Homo sapiens: one gene and its partners. The protein of the gene in region 5 purifies or fractionates together with the protein of the main gene of each other region. This does not show direct contact. Each region holds a gene or a part of one and is shown on either strand. Other genes may lie near its edges.

What was found.
Region 1: the proteins of LYAR (region 5) and BRIX1 purify together in Homo sapiens (affinity purification with mass spectrometry; 2 studies listed by BioGRID and IntAct, with this or other methods). This does not show direct contact.
Region 2: the proteins of LYAR (region 5) and NPM1 purify together in Homo sapiens (affinity purification with mass spectrometry; 3 studies listed by BioGRID and IntAct, with this or other methods). This does not show direct contact.
Region 3: the proteins of LYAR (region 5) and DKC1 purify together in Homo sapiens (co-immunoprecipitation; 2 studies listed by BioGRID and IntAct, with this or other methods). This does not show direct contact.
Region 4: the proteins of LYAR (region 5) and REXO4 purify together in Homo sapiens (co-immunoprecipitation; 2 studies listed by BioGRID and IntAct, with this or other methods). This does not show direct contact.
Region 6: the proteins of LYAR (region 5) and GNL2 purify together in Homo sapiens (affinity purification with mass spectrometry; 3 studies listed by BioGRID and IntAct, with this or other methods). This does not show direct contact.
Region 7: the proteins of LYAR (region 5) and MYBBP1A purify together in Homo sapiens (affinity purification with mass spectrometry; 3 studies listed by BioGRID and IntAct, with this or other methods). This does not show direct contact.

Annotation. Positions count from the first base shown.
Region 1 is NC_000005.10:34,918,711-34,922,210, reverse strand, and holds part of BRIX1 (ribosome biogenesis protein BRX1 homolog), read right to left. Parts: intron 2,372-3,500; coding exon 2,328-2,371; intron 1-2,327. UniProt on the Homo sapiens protein: Required for biogenesis of the 60S ribosomal subunit.
Region 2 is NC_000005.10:171,390,849-171,394,348, reverse strand, and holds part of NPM1 (nucleophosmin), read right to left. Parts: intron 3,045-3,500; coding exon 2,925-3,044; intron 2,644-2,924; coding exon 2,550-2,643; intron 1,640-2,549; coding exon 1,533-1,639; intron 1,436-1,532; coding exon 1,371-1,435; intron 1-1,370. UniProt on the Homo sapiens protein: Involved in diverse cellular processes such as ribosome biogenesis, centrosome duplication, protein chaperoning, histone assembly, cell proliferation, and regulation of tumor suppressors p53/TP53 and ARF.
Region 3 is NC_000023.11:154,772,864-154,775,526, reverse strand, and holds part of DKC1 (H/ACA ribonucleoprotein complex subunit DKC1), read right to left. Parts: intron 2,397-2,663; coding exon 2,278-2,396; intron 926-2,277; coding exon 822-925; coding exon of another isoform or gene 818-821; exon of another isoform or gene 333-817; coding exon 254-332; intron 1-253.
Region 4 is NC_000009.12:133,411,511-133,415,010, forward strand, and holds part of REXO4 (RNA exonuclease 4), read right to left. Parts: coding exon 3,155-3,500; intron 3,135-3,154; exon of another isoform or gene 2,827-3,134; intron 1,412-2,826; coding exon 1,268-1,411; intron 983-1,267; coding exon 789-982; intron 1-788.
Region 5 is NC_000004.12:4,270,178-4,273,154, forward strand, and holds part of LYAR (cell growth-regulating nucleolar protein), read right to left. Parts: intron 1-2,977. UniProt on the Homo sapiens protein: Plays a role in the maintenance of the appropriate processing of 47S/45S pre-rRNA to 32S/30S pre-rRNAs and their subsequent processing to produce 18S and 28S rRNAs. Also acts at the level of transcription regulation.
Region 6 is NC_000001.11:37,582,438-37,585,937, forward strand, and holds part of GNL2 (nucleolar GTP-binding protein 2), read right to left. Parts: intron 1,497-3,500; coding exon 1,430-1,496; intron 500-1,429; coding exon 341-499; intron 1-340. UniProt on the Homo sapiens protein: GTPase that associates with pre-60S ribosomal subunits in the nucleolus and is required for their nuclear export and maturation.
Region 7 is NC_000017.11:4,548,885-4,552,384, forward strand, and holds part of MYBBP1A (myb-binding protein 1A), read right to left. Parts: intron 3,409-3,500; coding exon 3,241-3,408; intron 3,114-3,240; coding exon 2,996-3,113; intron 1,470-2,995; coding exon 1,174-1,469; intron 559-1,173; coding exon 448-558; intron 1-447. UniProt on the Homo sapiens protein: May activate or repress transcription via interactions with sequence specific DNA-binding proteins. Repression may be mediated at least in part by histone deacetylase activity (HDAC activity).

The DNA of each region.
Region 1 (3,500 bases), on a different chromosome or scaffold from region 5:
GAAGCAAAGTATAGGAAAATGAAGTAGATAATATAAATGAGAACTAAAGTAATTATATGTGATTAATATCATCCAGATTATCTCAAAAATACCTAACCAGGCTAATAGGCTACAAAGGCCTAAACATGTATTTATTCACAGAAGGAACCTTTAAAGTTCCTCTTAGGTATTCTACCCAAGGTAAACTAGATGCTCTGCCCATATCTTGGGTGAAATTATCTATCATATTTTTGGGCCTAGCATCTAAAATGGTCTCACTTCTGATTACTGGAAACCTCCCTCCTTTTTTTTTTTTTTTTTTTTGCGATGCAGTTTCGCTCTTGTTGCCCAGGCTGGAGTGCAATGGCACGATCTCGGCTCGCCGCAACCTCCACCTCCCAGGTTCAAATGATTCTCCTGCTTCAGCCTCCGGAGTAGCCGGGATATTACAGGCCTGTGCCATCACACCCCGCTAATTTTGTATTTTTAGTAGAGATGGGGTTTCTCCATGTTGGTCTGGCTGGTCTTGAACTCCCAACCTCAGGTGATCTGCCTGCCTCAGCCTCCCAAAGTGGTGGGATTACAGGTGTGAGCCACCTCACCTGGCCAGGAACCTCTTCTGCCCATAGTCCCATTGACAAACTACAAAGACTAAAAATAGATGCCCTACGGATAAAGCATACCACAACTAATCTTCTTATGTTAATCCTTCATAATCAATCTTCTTAGCCAATCTTATGAAAATGCAGTACTTATAGAACTAAAAACATCCTTTTTAATGATTATTTTGATTTTTAACTTTTTAGCTTTTTGATTCTAAGATCACAAAACTTAAGTTGTTCTTCATTTATACTATCATTTCTGGTGATTTGGTTCTATAAAATCACTAAGGGATTGGGTGAAAAGCCTAAGTATATCAAACCTATTTCAAATTAAACTTCAATGTCTTGAAGGCTTACAAAAGTCACACTTGAGAAGACACAAAAACATTACAGGAGTGAAGGCTTGTATTACTGTAGTATTCATAAACTCTAATTAATATAGTACTCTTAAACTCCACATTATTTAAGACTTTAAACCTAACAACTTATGGCTGGATGAGGTGGCTCATGCCTATAACCCCAGCACTTTGGGAGGCCGAGGTAGGTGAATTGTCTGAGCAACCTGGCAAAGCTCCATCTCTACTAAAAATACAAAAAATTAGCTGGGCATACTGGCGTGTGCCTGTCGTCCCAGCTACTCGGGAGGCTGAGGCAGGAGAATTGCTTAAACCCAGGAAGCAGAGGCTGCAGTGAGCTGAGATCATACCACTTCACTCCAGCCTGGGTAACAGAGAGAGACTTTTGTCTCCAAAACCAGTTAAACAAATAAACAAACCCTAACAACTTAAAAAAAAAAAACAAAACTTTTGTTTCTTACTGGTCTTAGAATAAACACAAAAATAGGAAGTTTGTGCCACTTCTGGGCTTTTGTAGTTGCCATTTTCTCTAGCTAGATGGTCTTTTACCATATTTCTCCTTCACTACGTCTCTGCTCAAATATTAAACACCATCCCTTTGAACAGGTTTTTCCGGTGTAGCCTCAGCTGTCCAAAACCTATAACCTGCTTTATTTCTCCTGTCTTTACTTGAAATTATAAACCTTGTTTATGGCCTGTCTCCATTAGAATGTAAGTTCCATAATGACAGGGACATTGCTCTGTTGAACAGTTTCTACAGCACATAGAATAATGTGGTATTACAGCAGAGGTTCAAAAATTTGTGCTCTAAAGAAGGCTAATAGTGAAAAAATGATCCTAATTCTTCTAAGTTTTGAAAATTTTGCTTTAAAATGTAAATTTATGTTCTGTGCTTCCAGAGGTTAAAAAAAATACCTAAGTGTAGTATCTTAAACAATACTTTGAAAATGTAACCTATTCAGTTTGTAATACCTTAATAGCCAGTTCCACACAAATCACTTTTAATACTGGCAAAACACTTTTTACCATGTGGGTTTTATATATATATATGTTTAATGGACTTATTTTACTTTATATATGTTGACTGATAATTTTTTGAGTACCTACTATGGATTTAGCATAATACTAGACACTACAGGGTTAAAAAATGGGACATAATCCTTCTCCTGAGGAAATTTCAATATGCTTGTTCAGACAAAACAAACAGAAATGAATGAAGCACTAAACTGTGAGAGATAAAAATTTGGAAGACCAGTTATTGAAGAGTTAATAAAATGTGTCTGAATAGTTTTTACAAAATAATTTTTAAAGTCACTGAATGACTTAGTTTTGAAATAAGCCACTGTTAACATTTTAAAAATATTTTGTTGCAATTACTTTCCAAAATTACCTCGTTAATCACAAATAGCTTATCCTTACGATCCATTTTAGTATCTAGAAAAAGAAAAAAAAGAAAAAGCAAGTAAATTAAAGGTGATTTCAAAGTTATTTCAATCAAACCACATATGCTATCCAGAAAATAAAGTGTTTTTACACTCTTCAGTTTAAAGGAGATTTTATTACTAATTTTCAAAACAAGAGCTGGAAACAATCGCTCAAAAATCTTGACTCTTTGTAAATGTAAAGAAAATAAGTAAAATATAGTCTGTAAGAATTAGAAATTATAGTGTAAGCAGTGTTTCTCAATATTTAGGTATTCTAGGAATCCTTTTCAAAAATGGGAAAATTCTCACAAACCAAAGACTGTGTTAAAGGAAACCAGTTTCAATGAAAATATCTTTCACTTTTTAATCTTAGGTGTCAAAGAAAACTGACTTTATGCCCGTGTAACAAACCTGCACATATACTCCTTGAATCTAAAATAAGTTAAAATTTTAAAAATAAAAAACAAAAAACAAAAAAACCCCAAAGCACCTCTCAACATAAGCACAACAACAGCCATATGATGGCGCTGCCACTCCACTGTTCCAAACTTTTTTTTTTTTTTTTTTTTTTTTTTGAGACAGGGTCTTGCTCCTTGCCCAGGCTGAAATGTAGTGGCGCAATCACGGCTCATGACAGCCTTGAACTCCTGGGCTCAAGCCATCCTCCTGCTTGAGACTCCTGAGTAGCTGGGACTGCAGGCAAGTGACCCCCTCACTTGGCTAATTTACTTTACTTTTTTCATTTTTTTTTTTTTTTATTTTGTAGAGACAGGGTTTCACCATGTTGCCCAGGATGGTCTGGAACTCCTGGACTCAAGTGTTCCACCCACCTCGGCCTCCCAAAGTGCTGGGATTACAGGCATGAGCTACCATGCCCGGCCATACTGTTCTTGCCTGTAAAATAACCCACTGCTTAAAAATAAATAAATAACCTGGCATTTAGAAATAGGCTCTGACTCCAACTTAAAAAGTGCTTTGAATTCTATCCCAGGTCCATTTTTCAATAAAAACAGTTAAAAAAAAAAAAAAAAAGGCCCAAAAAGCAACATGTGGCAGTCCTTAGCACTTAGGACAAACCATCCCACCTATCTCAGGACCTTCAGAAGCATTACAGTGAAGGCATTCCTGGACCTTCAAGA
Region 2 (3,500 bases), on a different chromosome or scaffold from region 5:
TACAAAAATTTGGCTGGGCGCAGTGGTTCACATCTGCAATCCCAGCACTTTGGGAGACCGAGGCAGGTAGATCACGAGGTTAGGAGTTCAAGACCAGCCGGACCAACATACTGAAACCCTGTCTCTACTAAATACAAAAATTAGCAGGGCATGGTGCCCCGAGCCTGCAGTCCCAGCTACCCGGGAGGCTGAGGCAGGACAATCGCTTGAACCCAGGAGGCAGAGGTTGTGGTGAGCCGAGATGGCGCCACCGCACTCCAGCCTGAGCAACTGGAGACTCCATCTCAAAAAAAAAAAAAAAAAAAAAGAAAACAAAAACAGCAACAGTCAAATACTACCTTTAAGTTTGCGTTCATTTATAAGTTTGACATGCAAGTACTTTGAATTTTTATTTTTCTTTTGAGATTGGGTCTTGCTATTTTGACCGGGCTGGCCTCAAGAGATCCTCTCATCTTGGCTGGGTGTTAGGATTACGGGTGTGAACCACTGCGCCTGGTCATACTTTGAATTTTTAAGCTTTCGGCTCTTTCGGCCTTTTTCCTGTTTTCTGCCTTCATCGTCATGCTCAAAGATTTTGAAGAACCACCAGCTTAAAACCTAAACTCCCAATTTGATCTTTCATGCAGGTTCTCTTTTAAAGTGCATGTTCTTATATTTGTTTTCAATAAATGCATATGGACCAACCTCAGAACTGAAGGACAAAGCTGAGAGCCAAATCAAAGTATTCAATGCATTACTGGTACTGGCACACATAAGACCAATTATAAACAGTACTTTATACCAGTGTGCGTATTAACTGTTTGTAACAATAGTTTGATCTAGTTTAATATAAAGTCATCAAATATTGTTTCCAACCATATTTTAAATCCCAAGAAAATCTTAATATCCCTTTTAGAATCTTATTTTTGTCAATAAATATCTACATAAAACCATAAGACAAAATCCTTTTAGGGAATAACAAACCTTGAGTAACAACTTGTAAAATGAATATAGAGCTATTTAATCATATTTTCTTTCAACCCAATCTCATTAACTGCTCACCATAAAACATACCAGGCTTGATGGGTATAACACATCCACTAAATCTTCAGAACAAAGGGACATAATCAAACTTCACAAACACTATAGTCTACCCTTCTGAAGAGTCACAAGTCACAGCATTGTAAAGGCTCACAGACCCAATATCCTTTCAACTCAGCTCATTTAACTTAAACTGACAACAGATGACCACCTGCCCTTTTATTATAAACTATTACATAGGATGGCTTTTTGTAAATGACTTTTATAAAACCCTCATGCATATAACTATGTCAAATTCCTTTTTTTGTCAAGATTCCGGAAGTATATCAAGTTTCTAAAATCATACTTACTCTTCATCATCATCCTCTTCATCATCATCGTCATCATCTTCATCAGCAGCAAGTTTTACTTTTTTCTTTTAAAAGAAAAGATACGTACTCATGAACAAGAGCTGTTCTATCACCAAACTAAAAGCTATAATACAAAACCTATAATAAAATTGCCATCTCTACCTGTGGAACCTTGCTACCACCTCCAGGGGCAGACCGCTTTCCAGATATACTTAAGAGTTTCACATCCTCCTCCTCTTCATCTTCTGACTCTGCATCTTCCTCCACAGCTAAAATACAATTTATTAGACATTATAAAACTCAAGCAGCAAGAAGTCAGAAAAAAAAAGAACACTGATAGTAAATACTCTAAAAACTGAGACTTCTATTCTATTTAAAAAAAAAAAAAAAAAGAGCACATGGGAAAAGGAACTTTTTAACAAAAGTATTTTGAGGCCTAATGTTCACTGCCAGGTTTTAAATGCAAGAAGCCTGGGGAGGGTGGCTCATGCCTGTAATCTCACTTTGGGGAGGCCAAGGCGGACCACTTGAGGCCAAGAGTCCAATCTGGGCAACATACTGAGACCCCATCTGCACATATACAAAAAAAATTAGCCAGGCGTGGAGTGTGCCTGTAGTTCTAGCTATTCCAGAGGCTGAGGTGAACCCAGTAGCAGTTCGAGGATATAGCAAGCTATGATCACATCACTGCACTCCAGCCGTTATAATGAGACTGTCTTTATTAAAAAATAATTTTTAGGCCAGGCACAGTGGCTGACACGTGTAATACTAGCACTTTGAGAGGCCAGGGCGTGCAGATCACGTTAAGGCCAGGAGTTCAAGATCGGCCTGGCCAACATCACGAAACCCCTTCTCTACTATAACTATGAAACGCAACTGGACTTGGTGGTGCACGTCTGTGGCCCCAGCTACTGGGGAGGCTGAGACAGGAGGATCGCTTGAATCCCGGAGAGGTTCCAGTGAGCCAAGATCGTGCCACTGTACTCTAGCCTGGGTGACAGCAAGATTTCCTCTCCCCCCCGCCCCAAAAATTTATTTGTCCTCTCCAATTTCTAGACTCACATTGGAACCTATTAAAAAGACAGTAGTACTATACCCATGCTTTAAGTCCAAACTGGGAACCAAGCAACTGCACTAAAGAGGACAAACTAAGTAGTATAATATATAAAAATAACATACCTACTAAGTGCTGTCCACTAATATGCACTGGCCCTGAACCACACTTCAACCTTAAGACCACTGGTGGTGTTATTTCAAAGCCCCCAAGGGAAACCTAGAAGGGAGAAATTTTTCATCACTAAACATGTGAAGAAAATGAACAATAAACATTACAGGCAAACACATAAGCCAAATCAACAAACCAGTGAACCTGTTTTTCCACCTCTGATAAAAGTAGCAGCAGAAGCCCCCATGTTCAAGAGTTGACCATCGAACTCCAGTGACAGAAGATAAAGAACCACTTTCTATCTCCTTGGCACAACTAAATGACACCAAACCTACCTTAAAACAGAATTAAACCTTGACACAACATCCAAAGTATGTAAGTGCCCTTACCGTTGGCTGTACAGACATTTTCAAAGTTGCCAGTGTTACTTTAATTGGACTGCCTTCGTAATTCATTGCCTCTGCTTCAACAATGTGCAACTCATCCTTTGCACCAGCCCCTAAACTGACCTGTGAACAAAAAAAAAATACTACTTCAACTTTTGAGTTCCACCTATTTTACACCCCCCCACTAAATGTTATATGCAGCCATGCGTCACTTAACCACAGGGCTAGGTTCTGAGAAATGTGTTGTTAGACAATTTCATCTTTGTACAATCATAAGAATGTGCTTATACAAACCTAGATGGTATAGCCTACTACACACACCTAGGCTACAAACCTGTACAGTGTTACTGTACTGAATACTGTAAGCAACCGAAACACAGTATTTGTGCATCTAAGCATAGGAAAGGGCCGGGCTTGGTGGCTCATGCCTGTAATCCCAACACTTAGGGAGGCTGAGGCGGGCAGATCATGAGGTCAGGAGTTTGAGACCAGCCTGGACAACATGGTAACAACCTCGTCTCTACTAAAAACACAAAAATTAGCCAGGTGTGGTGGCACATGCCTGTAATCCCAGCTACT
Region 3 (2,663 bases), on a different chromosome or scaffold from region 5:
GTCGAGGCCCATCTGATTCCTGAGCCCACATTCCTCCTCCCAGCAGATAGGACAGAGAATACAAATCAGAGGAGCCTGCAGAGCCCAAACAAGCACCCCAGGGTATGAGGCAGCATTACCTGTGTATGCGCTGCACCTCTGATGCTAGCGTATATGGCTGGACTGCGGACAGTCACAAAGTAAGACGAATGCCAGTGCCTCTTAGGATTATCTCCCTAAGCACATTCCAAACTGAGGACAGCATGCCACTCACCTTCGCAGTTTTTGCTGCTTCGGCAACTACCTGCGGGGCTTTTACCACTTCAGCAACCACCTCTTTTTTGGCAGACTCACTGAAAAAGAGGTAGCAATAGGTCAAATTCACTGAATGGCTTTCCAGGGCAGTACTGATGTTATGTAGTGTTATCTGGCAAGTCTAAAGCCACCATCAAAATACTGACGCTGGACAGAAGAACTCACCACTTACTGTTGCAGACTGACTCCCTCTAGAGTCCCACGAGCCAGACTAGAAAGGGATAACTGTCTGCCGTGCAGGCCCACACCCCTAACTGGCCTGGGCAGCCAAAATCTCACGGGAGCTGAAGAGCTGGTTCCTGTGGTCCTGCATTTAGCAAGTTTGCCCCAAACCAAGTGACTCCCCCTCCCCTGGGCTCTACAACCTCCATGCTCACCTGTTCCTCACCTGTTGTCCATGTACTCCTGCGTCCAGATGGCAAGTGGGCTCTACCTTCCCATCCTCACCTGTTGTTGACATACTCCTGCATCAAGGCAGCAAGTGTGCCGTCTCTACCCACCCCGGCTCTGAAACATCCTGCCCTCACCTGTAGTCAACATACTCCTGCTTCCAGGTGGCAGGTGTGCTGTCTGTGGGCTTCCCATGCTTGTCCAGAAGGCCCTGCTTGATCATCAGCTTCTTCTGACTTGCCTGGTGGAACATCAAGGTGTCAACATTAGAATGGTGTCAATGCTGGAAGCGGGCATGGTGACTACAAAGAATAGAACAAGGTTCCTCCCTGGTGTATTCTCAGCAGGGCCTCAAACTCCTCTCCAGAGCATTCAGAATTTGCCCACTAACTCCAACACACACAGGACTTGTTGAAGATCACAAAGCTTATTAGTGAGAGCCTCTGCAGACATAACGTCCCCACCGCAGCCACTCTACTTTTTTGCCTTTGCACATGCTGCTTGCTCCCAATGCCCTGAACTCTCCCCTCCCCTCTTCACTTCACCAACACCTAACCCACTCTTCACACCGGTGTGGCTTAACAGACAATCCCTTGACCAGACTCCTTGACCACTGTGGACACTCCAGGTGACAGACACCTCTCTGCACTCCTTGGTAGCCACTAACGTGCATGAAATTCGCCATTCCACTGTGTGATTACGTGAGTAATGCCCAACTGTTTCCCCTCATTAGACTGAAATCTCTAAGGCCCAAGACAGGGCCTGTTTCCACTCATCGACAACCCAGAGCCCAGCACAATACAAGGCTGTGGTGGTGAAACACACCAAGAGCTGCCCAAGTATTCAACAATGCCAAACAAAAGAACCTGGCAGGAGCCGCCCCATCCGGGAGGGAGGTGGGGGGGGGTCAGCCCCCCCGCCCGGCCAGCCGCCCCGTCCGGGAGGTGAGGGGCGCCTCTGCCCGGCCGCCCCTACTGGGAAGTGAGGAGCCCCTCTGCCCGGCCGCCACCCCGTCTGGGAGGTGTGCCCAACAGCTCATTGAGAACGGGCCAGGATGGCAATGGCGGTTTTGTGGAATAGAAAGGCGGGAAAGGTGGGGAAAAGATTGAGAAATCGGATGGTTGCCGTGTCTGTGTGGAGAGAAGTAGACATGGGAGACTTTTCATTTTGTTCTGCACTAAGAAAAACTCTTCTGCCTTGGGATCCTGTTGATCTGTGACCTTACCCCCAACCCTGTGCTCTCTGAAACATGTGCTGTGTCCACTCAGGGTTAAATGGATTAAGGGCGGTGCAAGATGTGCTTTGTTAAACAGATGCTTGAAGGCAGCATGCTCCTTAAGAGTCATCACCACTCCCTAATCTCAAGTAATCAGGGACACAGACACTGCGGAAGGCCGCAGGGTCCTCTGCCTAGGAAAACCAGAGACCTTTGTTCACTTGTTTATCTGCTGACCTTCCCTCCACTATTGTCCCATGACCCTGCCAAATCCCCCTCTGTGAGAAACACCCAAGAATTATCAATAAAAAAATAAATTTAAAAAAAAAAAAAAAAAAAAAAGAACCTGGCAGGGCACGCAACCCAGTACCACTTACCTTTGGACCTAAACCCCACTTCCGAGGGTAAGTGTCTCTCTCCATGATCACTCTCTTGATCTTGGCTACTATACCATGGTCGCAGGTAGAGATGACCGCTGTGGTCATTAATGCAATAGCTACAGGCATTGAATAAAGAAAAGAATTATTTGAAGGGTGAAAGAATTGATAATTGATGAGCCCCAATTCTACTGTTGTATGCCACTTTAAAACTTTTAAAACTCTGAGCTACTACTTTAATTGGGGTTACCTTTGCTCAGGATGTGCATATGGAGGAAATACTCCATTATGAGAAGGAGGCCTTTGAAATGACGTTAAACTTCTGAAGTTAAAAAACACCTAACCAAAGCACCTAACGATACACATAACAGGCTTGCAGCTCAAGA
Region 4 (3,500 bases), on a different chromosome or scaffold from region 5:
CAGAGGCAGCCTTGCCTGCTTCTGGGGACCACCCCACCACCAACCCCACTTGTACCCCCCGAACAGGGGTGATTAGACCAAGGGTGGCCCGAGCCAAGTGGGACCAGCTAATTTTTTAAAAATATTTTTTAGAAGGCCAGGTGCAGTGGGTCATGCCTGTAATTCCAGCACTTTGGGAGGCGGAGGCAGGCGGATCACCTGAGTTCGGGAGTTCAAGACCAGCCTGACCAATGTGGAGAAACCCTGTCTCTACTTAAAATACAAAATTAGTCGGGTGTGGTGGCATATGCCTGTAATCCCAGCTACTCGGGAGGCTGAGGCAGGAGAATCGCTTGAACCCAGGAGGCGGAGGTTGCAGTGAGCCCAGATTGTGCCATTGCACTTCAGCCTGGGCAACAAGAGCAAAACTCCATCTCAAAAAAAAATAATAATTTTTTTTAGAAATGAGGTCTCGCTATGTTGTCCAGGCTGGACTTGAACTCCTGGGTTCAAGCAATCCTCCCTCCTCAGCCTCCTGAGTAGCTGGGACTACAGGCATGAGCCACCGTGCCCAGCTACTGGCCTGGTCTTGAAGTCAGCGGACAGGAGGCAATGAAGTGCAAGGCATAAATGGGTGTAAAGCCGTCTAAGGATGCCTTTTGTATTTTAAAACCCATCGCCCCAAAAGGAGACAAGACGCATCAAAACCAGCTGCAGTGAGTGGTCTCAGACAGAAAAGGGAACAAAAGGGAGAAAACGAATCCAGTTACTACTTTCCCTTCTAAGTTCCTGAGCTGTGGATGACATACCCTGCTTGAGGTTCTCAGGCCGAATCCCACTGACCGCTGTCCTATAGTCCGTCACGGGCTCGGTTGGTTTGACGTACTTGTCATAAACGCACTTCCCATACTGGTTCACGATGGACACACGGGCGGCCATGCTCTCCTCCCCCTTAGGGCCCACGCCCACCATCTCACAGTCCAAGGCTAAGGCTCTTGTCAGGCTGAAGGGTAACCAAAGGCTGTAGTTTAATAAACACGGCAGGCCACAGGGCTCCAGGTCAGAGCCCCAGGGATCCATGGACTAAGTGTCAGCAGAGAAAAGCTCTCTGCCCCTCACTCATTTGCACCCACGTGACAAGCTCTGTGTGGTCCTGGTTCTTAGCAGGACCCTGGGAGGTGCTTGCCTCATTCACCTCAGGGAGAGGAAAGCATCCTCTTCCTTGAAGAAGCCCCGCCCTCCACGGCTAAGCATCCCCAGCAGACCCCACTCCCTGAGACCAGCGTACCCGCCGAAGGCCTGCTCTTTCACGAGGCTGAGGCTGACGCTGCCCTCGCTCTGACCCAACTGTTTCCTCGCTATCTTGGCCGCCTCTGGACCTATGGCAGCTTCGATATCCGCTGGGTCCACGTCGTCAAACCAGATGTCTTCCCTAAAAGGCAAAGATAACAGGCTGATCACCAGAAGACCCTAGTGCAACTGGTGGGGTGGGGCTGTGGGGCTGACTGTGCAGGTGAGTGGAGCGATGGCACAGCCTGCCTCTCCCACAGGCTGGCCCCAGACACCCCGACTGCTGGCCCTGCTGCTTCTGCTATTTTGATCATCTTGGCATTTTCCTTTTTTTTTTGAGATGGAGTCTCACTGGGTCACCCAACCTGGAGTGCAGTGGCATGATCTTGGCTCACTGCAACCTTTGCCTCCCAGGTTCAAGTGATTCTCTTGTCTCAGCCTCCCTAGTAGCTGGGATTTTACAGGCGCCCACTGCCACGCCTGGCTAATTTTTTGTATTTTCAGTAGATACGGGGTTTCGTCATGTTGGCCAGGCTGGTCTTGAACTCCTGACCTCAAGTGATCCACCTGCCTCGGCCTCCCAAAGAGCTGGGATTACAGGTGTGAGTCACAGCACCTGGCCTCATCTCTTTTCTTTTTAATTAGAAAATACACTCATTATTCAAGATTTAGGAACACAGACAAACACAAAGAATATAAAACAGAAACACATAACCCACCACCCAAGTGTAATGAGTGCTAACATTTTAATTATGAAGGTAACACGTTCATTATTGAACACTTAGGAAACAGACAGACAGAATGCCTGTAAGATGGAAACACAGAACCCCTTGCCCTCCGTACTAGGAAGCTCACACAGGCACGTAACACCTGCCTGGGGAATCTGTCTCTTGGGCTAAGGTTAAATGTCATTTCCTTAGAAAAGCCATTCCTGGCCCCACTGAATGGACACGTCCCTCTTGTTCCAGGCGCCCAATACCTTCTCCTCACTAGATTTATCCTGACCACACTTAATCAACAGCTGCAGTTTACAGTCTGTCTACTGCACTTGACAATAAGCCTCAAGAGGGAGGAGCAGGCCCACCTCACTGAACTCTATCCCAGACAGCCTGCCTAGCACAACACAGGGAGGCCCCCAAATGGCTCATTCCTCAGCCATCAGCGACTGTGTCCTGAACACCCAGGCAACATGAAGCCAGCTGTAACTTATGAACACGTCACCTCCAGCTGAACCATTCAGAGAAGGCCACTGACTCCCGGTCCACCCCACGTGGGTGGCCAGCACAGGGTTTATTCTTTTCACTTGTTTTTTTGAGAGTCTTGCTCCGTCACCCAGGCTGGAGGCAGTAGTGCAATCACAGCTCACTGCAGCCTCAACCTCCTGGGATCAAGTGATCCTCCCACCTTGGCCTCCCAAGGAGCTGGGATCACAGGCAACAGCCACCACACCTGGCTCCATCACAGGGTTGAAGTAATCACCAGGCACTGAGCCAAGAGTGCCAACCTCACAATCTCCTTATGATGCCACCATGACTACCACAAGGCACAGAGGACGTCAGAAACTTGCCCCAAACCACCCAACTGGCGAGAAGCAGGGACAGGCCTCATACTTGGGTCTTTCTGGCTTCAGCACGCTTTCCTTCCACACACGTGTACTGGCACCCACTAAATGCTGAGCTCTGCTCAACGCTCGGAAGAAGCAGGCCCTGCCTTATCATGCGCACACTCTAGGGGAAAACAAGTAACAGCGAGTAAACAAAGGAACAGACGACATCAGGGTAAAGTGATGGAGAGACTGCGGTGAGGCCACCAGCCTCCATAAGGAGACAGGCCTTGGTGAAGTCGCTGTGCCTCGGTTCTCAGTGGTGAGGTGGCCCATACTTACTCGGTGGGTGGGGCTGGGGCTGCCTCCTTAGCTTTCCGCTTCTTATGCTCGATGTCCCCTCGTTCTGGAACAATATCACCATTTGTCCTTTCCTTGGTTCCTTTCTTATTGTGCTCTGTTCCACTGGCCTTGGTGCGAGGTACTGGCGCCCTCCTGTCCATCTTGGAACCTGAAGGAACAGAGCCCCTGCTGGCCTCCTGGTCTTTTCCTGCCGGCATCTCCTCTCCCTTCACTTGAGGCGAGGTCTCTTTTTTGTTTTGCTGGATAATTTTGGGCTTCTTTTTGGAACCCATCTGAGAGATGACAAGAGGCTTTTCTGGGGCCTGAGATTTTTGTTTCAGCAGCC
Region 5 (2,977 bases):
GGGCAACAGTGAGACCCTGTCTCGAAAAATAAAAATAAAATACAGTAACACATTAAATTGTACACCTGAACTACATAAAATGTTGATTTGTAAAAAAAAAAAAAAAAAAAGTTATCCATTAAGATAATTTAGAAAACAAAAAAATCTTTAGGCTCTAGGGCTAGGTAAAGAGTTGTTAGCACAATCCATAAGATAAATTGATAAATTGAACTTTATCAAAATAAAAACCATTTGCCCTAAAAAGACTCTGTTATGATGAAAAAACAAGCAAAAAGACTGAAAAAAAATTCACAAACTGTTATGTCCCACAAAGGAGTACTATTTAGAATAAATTTAAAAACTAAAATCTCAACAGTTAAAAAAAAAAAAAACCCACAAAAACAACAACCAAAAAAACCCCAAACAACTCAAATTAGAAAATAGGGGAAAAAAATTTAAAAAAAGAGAGCAGACATTTCAACAAAAACATATACAGATAGCAAATATGCACAGAAGAAGGTGCTCAACAACATTAGTCATTAGGGCCACACAAATTCAAACCACAATGAGCGGTTACCACACATCTATCAGAATGGCGAAAATACAACACAGTGGCAACGCCTAATATTGACCATGATGTGGAGAAACTAGATCCTTTACACACTGCTACTGGGAATATAAAATGTGTACAGAGACTCCTGAAACAGCTGACAGTTTTTTCCTTTTTAAATTTTTGTGGGTACACAGCAGGTGTATATGGGGCACGTGAGATATTTTGATACAGACATGCAATGTATGATACTTACATCAGAGTAAATGGGGTATCCATCACCTCAAGCATTTATCCTTTTGTGTTACAAACAATCCAATTATACTCTAGTTATTTTAAAATGTACAATTAAATTATTATTGACTACAGCCACCCTGTTGTGTTATGAAATACTAGATCTTATTCATTCTATTTTCTTGATACCCATTAACCATCCCCACCTCTCCCACAGCCTCCCACCACCCTTTCCAGTCTCTGGTAACCATCCTTTTACTCTCTATCTCCATGAGTTGGCAACTGTTTTGATTTTTAGATCCCACAAATAAGTGAAAACATGCTATGCTTGTCTTCCTGTGCTTGGCTTATTTCACTTAGCATAATGACTTCCAGTTCCATCCACGTTGCTGCAAACGACAGGATCTCATTCTTTTTATGGCTGAATAGTACTCCGCTGTGTACATGCACCACATTTTCTTTACCCATTCATCTGCTGCTGGACACATAGGTTGCTCCAATCTTGGTTATTGTAAATAGTGCTGCAACAAACACGGGAGTGCAGGTATCTCTTCAACACAGGGATTTCCTTTCTTCTGAATATATACCCAAACAGTGGGGCTGCTGGATTGGACGGGAGCTCTATTCTTAGGTTTCTGAGGAACCTCCAAGCGGTTCTCCATAGTGGTTGTACTAATTTACATTCCCACCAACAGTGCACCAGCGTTCCTTTTTCTCCACATCCTCGCCAGCATTAGTTATTGAGCTGGTGGTTTCTTAGAAAAGAAAGAATATGCAACTACTGTATGACACAGCATTGAACATTCGCTTCAGAAAAACTGACTTAGTTCACACAGAAACCTGCACATCAATGTTTACTGCAGCTTTATTCATTAATAACCAGAGACTAGAAACCACCCAGGTGTCCCTCCACAGGTGAATGATGAAAGGACTGTGATGCACGCACAGCACGGGATACTCCTCACCAATAAGATGAATATTGGTCAGTTCAGCAACCTGGGTGAATCTCCAGAGAAAAACGCTGAGCGAAGAGTCAGTCTCAAAAGGTTACATACTGTATGATTCCATTCATAGAACATTCGGAGATTCCAGAAATGAAGAACAGATTAGTGATTGCCAGAGGCTAAGGAGGGGGTGGGGGTGAGAGGGAAGTGGCTGTGGCTACAAGAGGGCAGCAGGAGGCAGCCTTGCGCAATGGCGATGGAAATGGAAGCGTATCCATGTCAACATCCCGGCTGAGATGCTGTACTACAGTTGTGTAAAGTGTTATCCTGGGTGGCAACAAGGTAAAGGGTACGCGGATACATAAGGACGCCTGAGTCTCCATTATTTCTTACAACTGCATGTGAGTCTACAAGGATCTCAAAACAAAAAATGTAACAACAACAACAAAAATAACCATTCCAGTTGTCCCCCTTGATCTGCAGGGGACAGTTCCCAGACCCCCAGTGGATGCCTGAAATCACAATGGTACTGAACCCCTATATATACTGTCTTTCCCTAAATATTCATTCATGCCTATGACAATGCTCCACTTATAAATGAGGCACAGTAAAAGATTATCAATAACTAATAATAAAATAGAACAATTTTACAATACACTATAATAAAAGTTATGTGAATGTGGTCTCTCTGTGTCTCTCTAAATATCTTATTGTCCTATCCTCACCCTTCTTGTGGTGAAGAAGGCATACAGCAGGACAGCAAGAGATCTCGCCATGCTGCTCAGAACAGCATGCAATGGAAAACTTATCAATTGTTTATTTCTGGAATTTTCCATCCCACAGATATGGGGACACTACTGTTTACTAAGTTGAGAAGGGGGTTTTAAGCTTAGAGATCTAACCCAATGCTGGCAGTCACTGAACTCTGCTAATAAAGCTGCAGGCCCATTTGAGTCTTTGGACCTGTTCTGAACTGCAGGATCCTGGGGGTTGGGGGAGGTGGCAGAGAGATGACGACTTGCCACCTCCCGACAGGTATGAGTGCTTCAGGCCTGAAGAAGCAGGAGAGAAGCTTTGTGTAAGAGACAGCATTTCAGAGGGCCCGTGAAGGCCAGGGACTGGATTCTGAGGTTGAGGATACAAGCAAGGAGACCCCAGAAACAGGCCCAGAGATGGGCAGGGGCACAGTTCAGGGGACTTCTAAGAGAACAGTGAAAGGCAGGGGCAAGAGAGTTGGGGAGGAGCGAAAGGGAACCGGGTCTCAGAAAGC
Region 6 (3,500 bases), on a different chromosome or scaffold from region 5:
TTGTCTAAGGAAAATGTTAGCTATAATTCTTTGAAATGTTTTTTCCAAGTATAACAGTTAATGCTTTGTTCTTCTGTCTTATAAATACAAAACAATATTCCAAAAAATGTCTTCATTGTTACTAAATGCAATTAATGGAGCATAATGTGAAGCAGGCAGTGGCCTCAGAAGCCGTCTCCTGGTGCCTCTGCCCACTATCAATGAGCACACTTTCGTGTTTCCAATGAGAGCACTCCCATTACTACAATCTCAGCCGGACAACACTTTAGCCTAAAAGCCCTACAACTGACTTACTAACAGATGTCTTAATAGTCTATTCTGGTTTAGTAGTTGTACTTACTGTTGCCCAGGTTGGAACAAGGTCACATTTGTTAAGTACAAAAATGAGGTGTTTCCAAGGTTTTTCCTTCTTCAGGTAAGTTTCAATGTGAGGGGAACGAGTACCCATTGGATCTCTAGCATCAAGAACTTGAACTACAACATCTGATGAATCTATCACCTGAAAATTCAGAAAGGCAAAAATGGTTTGCTACAGTACAAATAAAAGAGGGATGACATTTAAGGGAGTCTGGGAAAAATAAAATAATAATATTTAGAGACAACTTCAAAACAGTCTCTGGGCAGAGTTCGTTGTGGCTAATCTCAAGGCCCAGTGATCAGAATTCAAAAGGTTTTTCATCCTGTGGCTTTTGAAACCTGCTGAATTTAAAACAGAAAAACTAGCTTAGATGAAACTCAACTTATTTCCTAACTACTATGGATTATTGAACTAAATCATTTACTTCTTAGACTTCTTTAAGTTTGTAATATTATCTTTAAGTTTGTAATATTATAGGTTTTGTGTATTTCACAAAAAACTACAAAGTTTAGCTTGCCTTCACGGTACTAGTTTCCTATCATGTTACTATTTAATTACGTGATTATACTTGAAAATTTTTCTTCTGAAGGTTATTATTAGTGCATGGACATAAACCTCTGCCGGTTAAAGATCACTGGATCAGAAATCAAGATATACAAAGCCTCCTTCACTAACAAGCTAGTCGAGCTAGGTACAGCATTAAACCTTTCTAGACAGGAGTCCTCATCGATAAAAGGAGAGGGGTGGACTAAATAACTTAAAATGTTGCATGTGACTTTAACTAGGCATGATAAATTTGGCAGGAAATCTTAAAAAATACTGACAGGTAATAAATATGTGATTGTATAATAAAAGATAGCTGTTACTCTTATACAAGTACTTTAAAAAATGCAGTTACCTAGATCAATGGTAGTACGCCTTCCGAGTTTCTTTGTAGGAGGAAGAGGATGGAACAGGCAGTGGTGCCTGTACTCTGCGCAACAGAGCTTCAATATATCAAAATTAGTTTTCTTCTACAAAATCATGAAAGCCCAAGGAACCACTCAATGGGAGAGAATTTAGGAGTCTTACCTTGTAGAGCTCACCCCATATTCTTTTGGACTGTCCCTTTTTATAGATCTCTTCTTGAGCTTCATTTCTAAATAAGAAAGCACCCCAAATGAGCAACTGAAGCACCATCAAGACTAAAAGGATGCTTTAGGGTAAAGTCAATGTACCAAAAAAAACAGTATCAAACCCAGTTGGAGATGGACCAGAAACAAACTGAATTTAAAAAGTGTGCCCAAATGTCTGTCAACAAATAAATGGATAAACACAATGTGGCACATATATACACAAGATAGCATTCAACTTTAAAAAAGAAGGAAATTCCAGCTGGCTCAGTGGCTCACACCTGTAATTCCAGCACTTTGGGAGGCCAAGGAGGGCAGACTGCTTGAGCCCAGGAGTTCGAGACCAGCCTGGGCAACATGGCAAAACCCCATCTCCACAAAAAATACAAAAATTAGCTGGGCATAGTGGTGCATGCCTGTAATCCCAGCTACTGGGGAGACTGGGGTGGGAGAACTCCTTGAGCCCAGGAGGTTGAGGCTGCAGTGAGCCATGAGCAGGCTACTGCTCCAGCCTGGGTGACAGAGCAAGACCCTGTCTCAAAAAATAATTAATTAAAAAAAAAAAAAAAAGAAGAAGAAAATTCTGACACCTGCTACAACACGAATGAACCTTGAAGACATTATGCTAAGTGAAATAAGCCAGACACAAAAGGACAAATACTGTATGATTCCACTTATATTAGGCACCTAAACCAGTCAAATTCATGAGAGAGAAAGTAGAATGTTGTTACCAGGGGCTGGGGGAGAGGGGAAACGGACCGTTAGTGTTAAATGGGTACAGGGTTTCAGTTTGGGATGATGAAAAAGTTCTGGAGATGGATAGCTGCAATGATTGCACAACAATGTAAATGAACTTAGTATCACTAAACTGTACACTTGAAAATGGTTAGAAGAGCTGGGCACAGTGGCTCACACTTGTAATCCCAGCACTTTGGGAGGCTGAGGCAGTGGATCATAAGGCCAGGAGTTCGAGACCAGCCTGACCAACATGGTGAAACCCTGTCTCTACTAAAAATACAAAAAAATTAGCCAGACGTGGTGGCGGGCACCTGTAATCCCAGCCACTCGGGAGGCTGAGGCTGGAGAATCGCTTGAACCCGGGAGGCAGAGATTGCAGTGAGCCGAGATCACATCAAATGGTTAGAAGAGTACTTTTTTTTTTTTTTTTTTGAGACGGAGTCTCGCTCTGTCGCCCAGGCTGGAATGAGTGGTGCGATCTTGGCTCACTGCAACCTCCGCCTCCCGGGTTTAAGCGATTCCCCAGCCTCAGCCTCCCAAGTAGCTGGTACTACAGGTGTGCGCCCCTGCGTCCAGCTAATTTGTGTATTTTTAGTAGGGACTGGGTTTCACCATGTTGGTCAGGCTGGTCTCAAACTACTGACCTCAGGTGATCCGCCCGCCTCAGCCTCCCAAAGTGCTAGCATTACAGGTGTGAGCCACTGCGTCTGGCCACATTTTTTGTTACATATATTTTACCACAATAAAACATTAAACTAAAAAAAAGCATGACTGAATTAGGCAGTATGTCACAGAGAATTACAAAATGGAATTGGCAGGACCTGAATCACAACCTATACTCCATAGCTCCCATATACAGCAGTATTTTTCTGATAAGGTTTAGAATCTGTTTATTTACTAGTCTCTAGGACATTTACCCAAGGTAAACAAAAATAGTTTTGTCTTTACTGCATTACCTACTATACCTGTTGCGGAAGGAAAAATTCAAATCGGCAGAATACAAAGCCAACGAAAGTTCAAATAATTCTAAGAACAAATAAATGAACTCACTGCCTCTTTTTGCTTGGCCTCAAATGGCTTGACATTTTATCTCTAGGTGGCCCAATGCTTGAAGATGGGCTGACAATAGCAATGAGGTAATAACACTGATGCAGTCAAAGGACAATGCCTCTTCACTAAGACAGCAAAACCTCCACTTCATTTAAGAGACATGAGATGGACGAGAATGAGAGCTTTCTAGCACTGCCCAAGGGAAATGAAATTAAACCCTTTCTCAAGAGCAATGTGGCAGC
Region 7 (3,500 bases), on a different chromosome or scaffold from region 5:
CTAGAGAGAGTCAGTGCCCCTCTCAAGGAACCAACAGATGGGAGGCTGTGTGGTCATGGCCAAGTCAGGTCACTGCTCCTGCGAACATGGGACAGCCCCCTCTTGCAACCGTGCATGTTGAGGGTGACGTGAGCACCCAGCTCTGCACTGGCACAGACGAGGCAGGTGTGGGGCAGAAGGCTTCCCTGACACCTCCCACGTGCAAAAGCTGCCTGCAGGGCGCGCAGAGCACACCTGAACCTTTTAGGCCCCTGCAGCTGGGGTGCCTCCTGGGCCCCTTCCCTTCACGGGTTCCTGAGGAATTCCCAAGTCCCCTTGTGCCTGCCCCCCACTGATGACTCAACCCAAAGGCTTCTGGCTCCAGGGGATGCAAACTAGGACGAGTTAAGGGGCCCCATTCCTTGGCCACACGCCCATGGGAAGCTGGGAATCCAGCACAGCTCGCACCTGGCCACCTGCTCAGTCAAGGCCTCCTCCATCTCCAGGTGCAGGCTGTCCACAATGCTCACCAATCGAAAGATGATCCATTTCCTCAGCCGGAACACAGCTCGCTCAGGCCTAGCGGGGCAGGAGGCGAGGTCATGTGAGCCACTTATAACTGGCAGAAACAGGCTGGGCCCAGTGGCTCACACCTGTAATCCCAGCACTTTGGGAGGCCAAGGCTGGCCAATCACTCGAGGTCAGGAGTTCGAGACCAGCCTGACCAACACGGTGAAACCCCATCTCCATTAAAAATACAAAAATTAGCTGGGTGTGGTGGCGGGTGCCTGTAGTCCCAGCTACTGGAGAGGCTGAGGCAGAGAATCACTTGATTGCTTGAACCCGGGAGGCAGAAGTTGCAATGAGCTGAGATCACACGCCACTGCACTCCAGCTTAGGCCACAGAGAGTGAGACTCTGTCAAAAAAAAAAAAAAAAAAAAAAAAGAACCAGCAAAAACAGGACATTCCTTTGCCTGATCTCAGAGACAACACTCCAAGATCTCCCCATCCCGATCGCCAGTGTGGGGACACACAAGTAAACTGAGGCCTCATATGAGAGCTAAGGCTCTTCCCCCTCGCTCCTCTCATGGTTTAGAGCCAGGACGCTGTGGAGGGCGGGCTTGGGTCGCGGGGCTCTGCAGGCCTAGGAAGTTAACTCCTAAATTAGGTGTCCTCCCCCAAGGTCCACTCACATGTGGAGCGATGAATCCTGGGCTTTCTTCTGGTTGTTGGTGCTGAAGTCAACCAAGGAGTCCAGGTCTGGCTGGAGAAACATGGCCCGCAGCCAGGCCACATAGCCCTGCAGGGCCGGAGGGCTCAGGAACCGCACGACCCGCCAGAAAGTAGGCGTGACAGGGAGGCCTTGGTTGGTGACAGATGAGAAGGCCACTAGCACGGCCAGCTGCCGCTCAGGGTCATCCTGGCACCCCTCTAGGAAGGTGCCCACGTAATCGTCCATCTCTGGGGCAAACTTGAACTGCTTTGGGAGCTGCAAGAGTTAGGCATGGCGCTGAGCCCACCAGCCCAGGGGGGCAGGCGGTTAACAACCCAACAGCCAAGGGGGCAGGCGGGCAACAGCCCAACAGCCCAACAGCCCGGGGGCAGGCGGGCAACAGCCCACCAGGCTTGTGCCCACTACAGGTTAAATCGAGCCCCGGCAATCTCCTGTTGTACACAGCTAGGCTGTGCCTGAACTTGCAACAGTCCAGTCACCCCAGTGCTTTTGTCTGGCGTCAAGGCCTCTGTGGGTCTGACTGCCCCAGCTTCAGCACCTCCGGCCCCAGAAGGCCCCTCTTTCCGCCTTGCTGGATGGGGATGGCCTGTTTTCCTGGCTCAACGCAGGGCAGAGTGGTAGTTAGGAGGCGAGACTGACCTGGGTTCAAAGCCCACGCTGCCAATTCCTAGCCGTGTCATCTTCGGGACCAAAAACAACCACCTCTCACGCGCTTACTCAGTGCCAGCACCCGCGCTCCGCCTTTTTGGGCGGCAGCTTAGCATTTTTAGCAACTCTTTGCGGTTGGCCAATATTGTCATTGCACAGGTGAGTACAGTGAGACACAAAAACACCTAGAGGTAACTTCTCAGGGTCAGAGGCTCCCAGTGGGATAGTGTCCGGCTTCACAGCCCAAGCTGTTTTCCTTTCAATTTTTTAGACTTGTGCCCCTGGCATGTAGTGCCATGATCATGGCTCACTGCAGCCTCAAAATTCTGGGTTCAAGGGATCCTCCCACCTCAGCCTCCCGAGTAACTGGGACTACAGGTGTGCACCACCATCCAACCCAAGCTCTTAACCACTGCCTGATACTTCAAGTCTCCCCCTCACCCAGAATGACAGCTCTCTGAAACTCACTGCAAAGATAAAATGAGCTGGTGAGAACAGTCAACCCAGCAGCACTTACTGGGCACCAGGCTCACTGGTGCCCAAACATGGTCATGACGACTGTTCTCATCACTGCCACATGGGCGGGGGCGGAGAGAGGTCTGAACAGCCCGCTGGCTATCCATGCCCACAAGGGGGCCTGCTGGCAGAAGGGCCTGACTTTATCAAAACTGTCAGAGGGAAGCCAGGTACAGTGGCTCACGTCTGTAATCCCAGCACTCTGGGAGGCCAAGGCGGGTGGATCACCTAAGGTCAGGAGTTCGAGACCAGCCTGGCCAACATGGCAAAATCCCGTCTCTACCAAAAATACAAAAATTAGCTGGGCGTGGTATTGGGCGCCTGTAATCCCAGCTACTCAGGAGGCTGAGGCAGGAGAATCGCTTGAACCTGGGAGGCGGAGGTTGCAGTGAGCCAAGATCTCACCACTGCGCTCCAGCCTGGGCGACAAGAGCAAAACTTCATCTCAAAAAAAAAAAATTTGTCCGAGGGAAAGGGGTTCAGGCAGCTCACTACCCAGACGGAGGGGACACCCATAGCTCTAGCCAAGCCCCCGAGGTGCCCTGCTCCCCTTTTTGGCAGGGAGAGCTCCACGTCTAGCCTTTCTGGCAGTGTCGAGCTGCACGGGCATTACCCACCTTAGCAGTGCACACGTGCTCCCCGTAATGGCGGATCACGTCTCCCTGCATCACCAGGTGCAGCTGCTCCTTGGTCAGCAGGGGCAGGGCCGCGCCCAGCAGGCGGAAACACAGGTAGCTAAAGGGGGTGCAGGACAGAGCCTGGTCAGAGCCCTTGGTGCCCCTGGTGGGAACCTCAGGACTAGTGGCCTAGCCCACTTCACGGACAGGGAAGGGGGCCGAGAGAGGACACGCGTCGCCCGCACCTGGCTGGCCAGAACTGCATCTTCAGCAGCCCTTGTTCCACCACCTCCTTCCAGAACCGTGGGAACTTGTCTTCCTTGAGTGCCAGGCGGAGCAGGTCCAGAGCAATGGCGGGCAGCTTGCGGTCCTTCTTCACAGAGGAGGCGGCCATCTTCAGCACATTCACCAGCCTGCGGAGGGCAAGGGACTCAGGGAACACTTGCCTCACAGGCAAGGGCCAGGGTGACAAGAGCAGCCGGGACACCCCCAGGCCAAACGACAA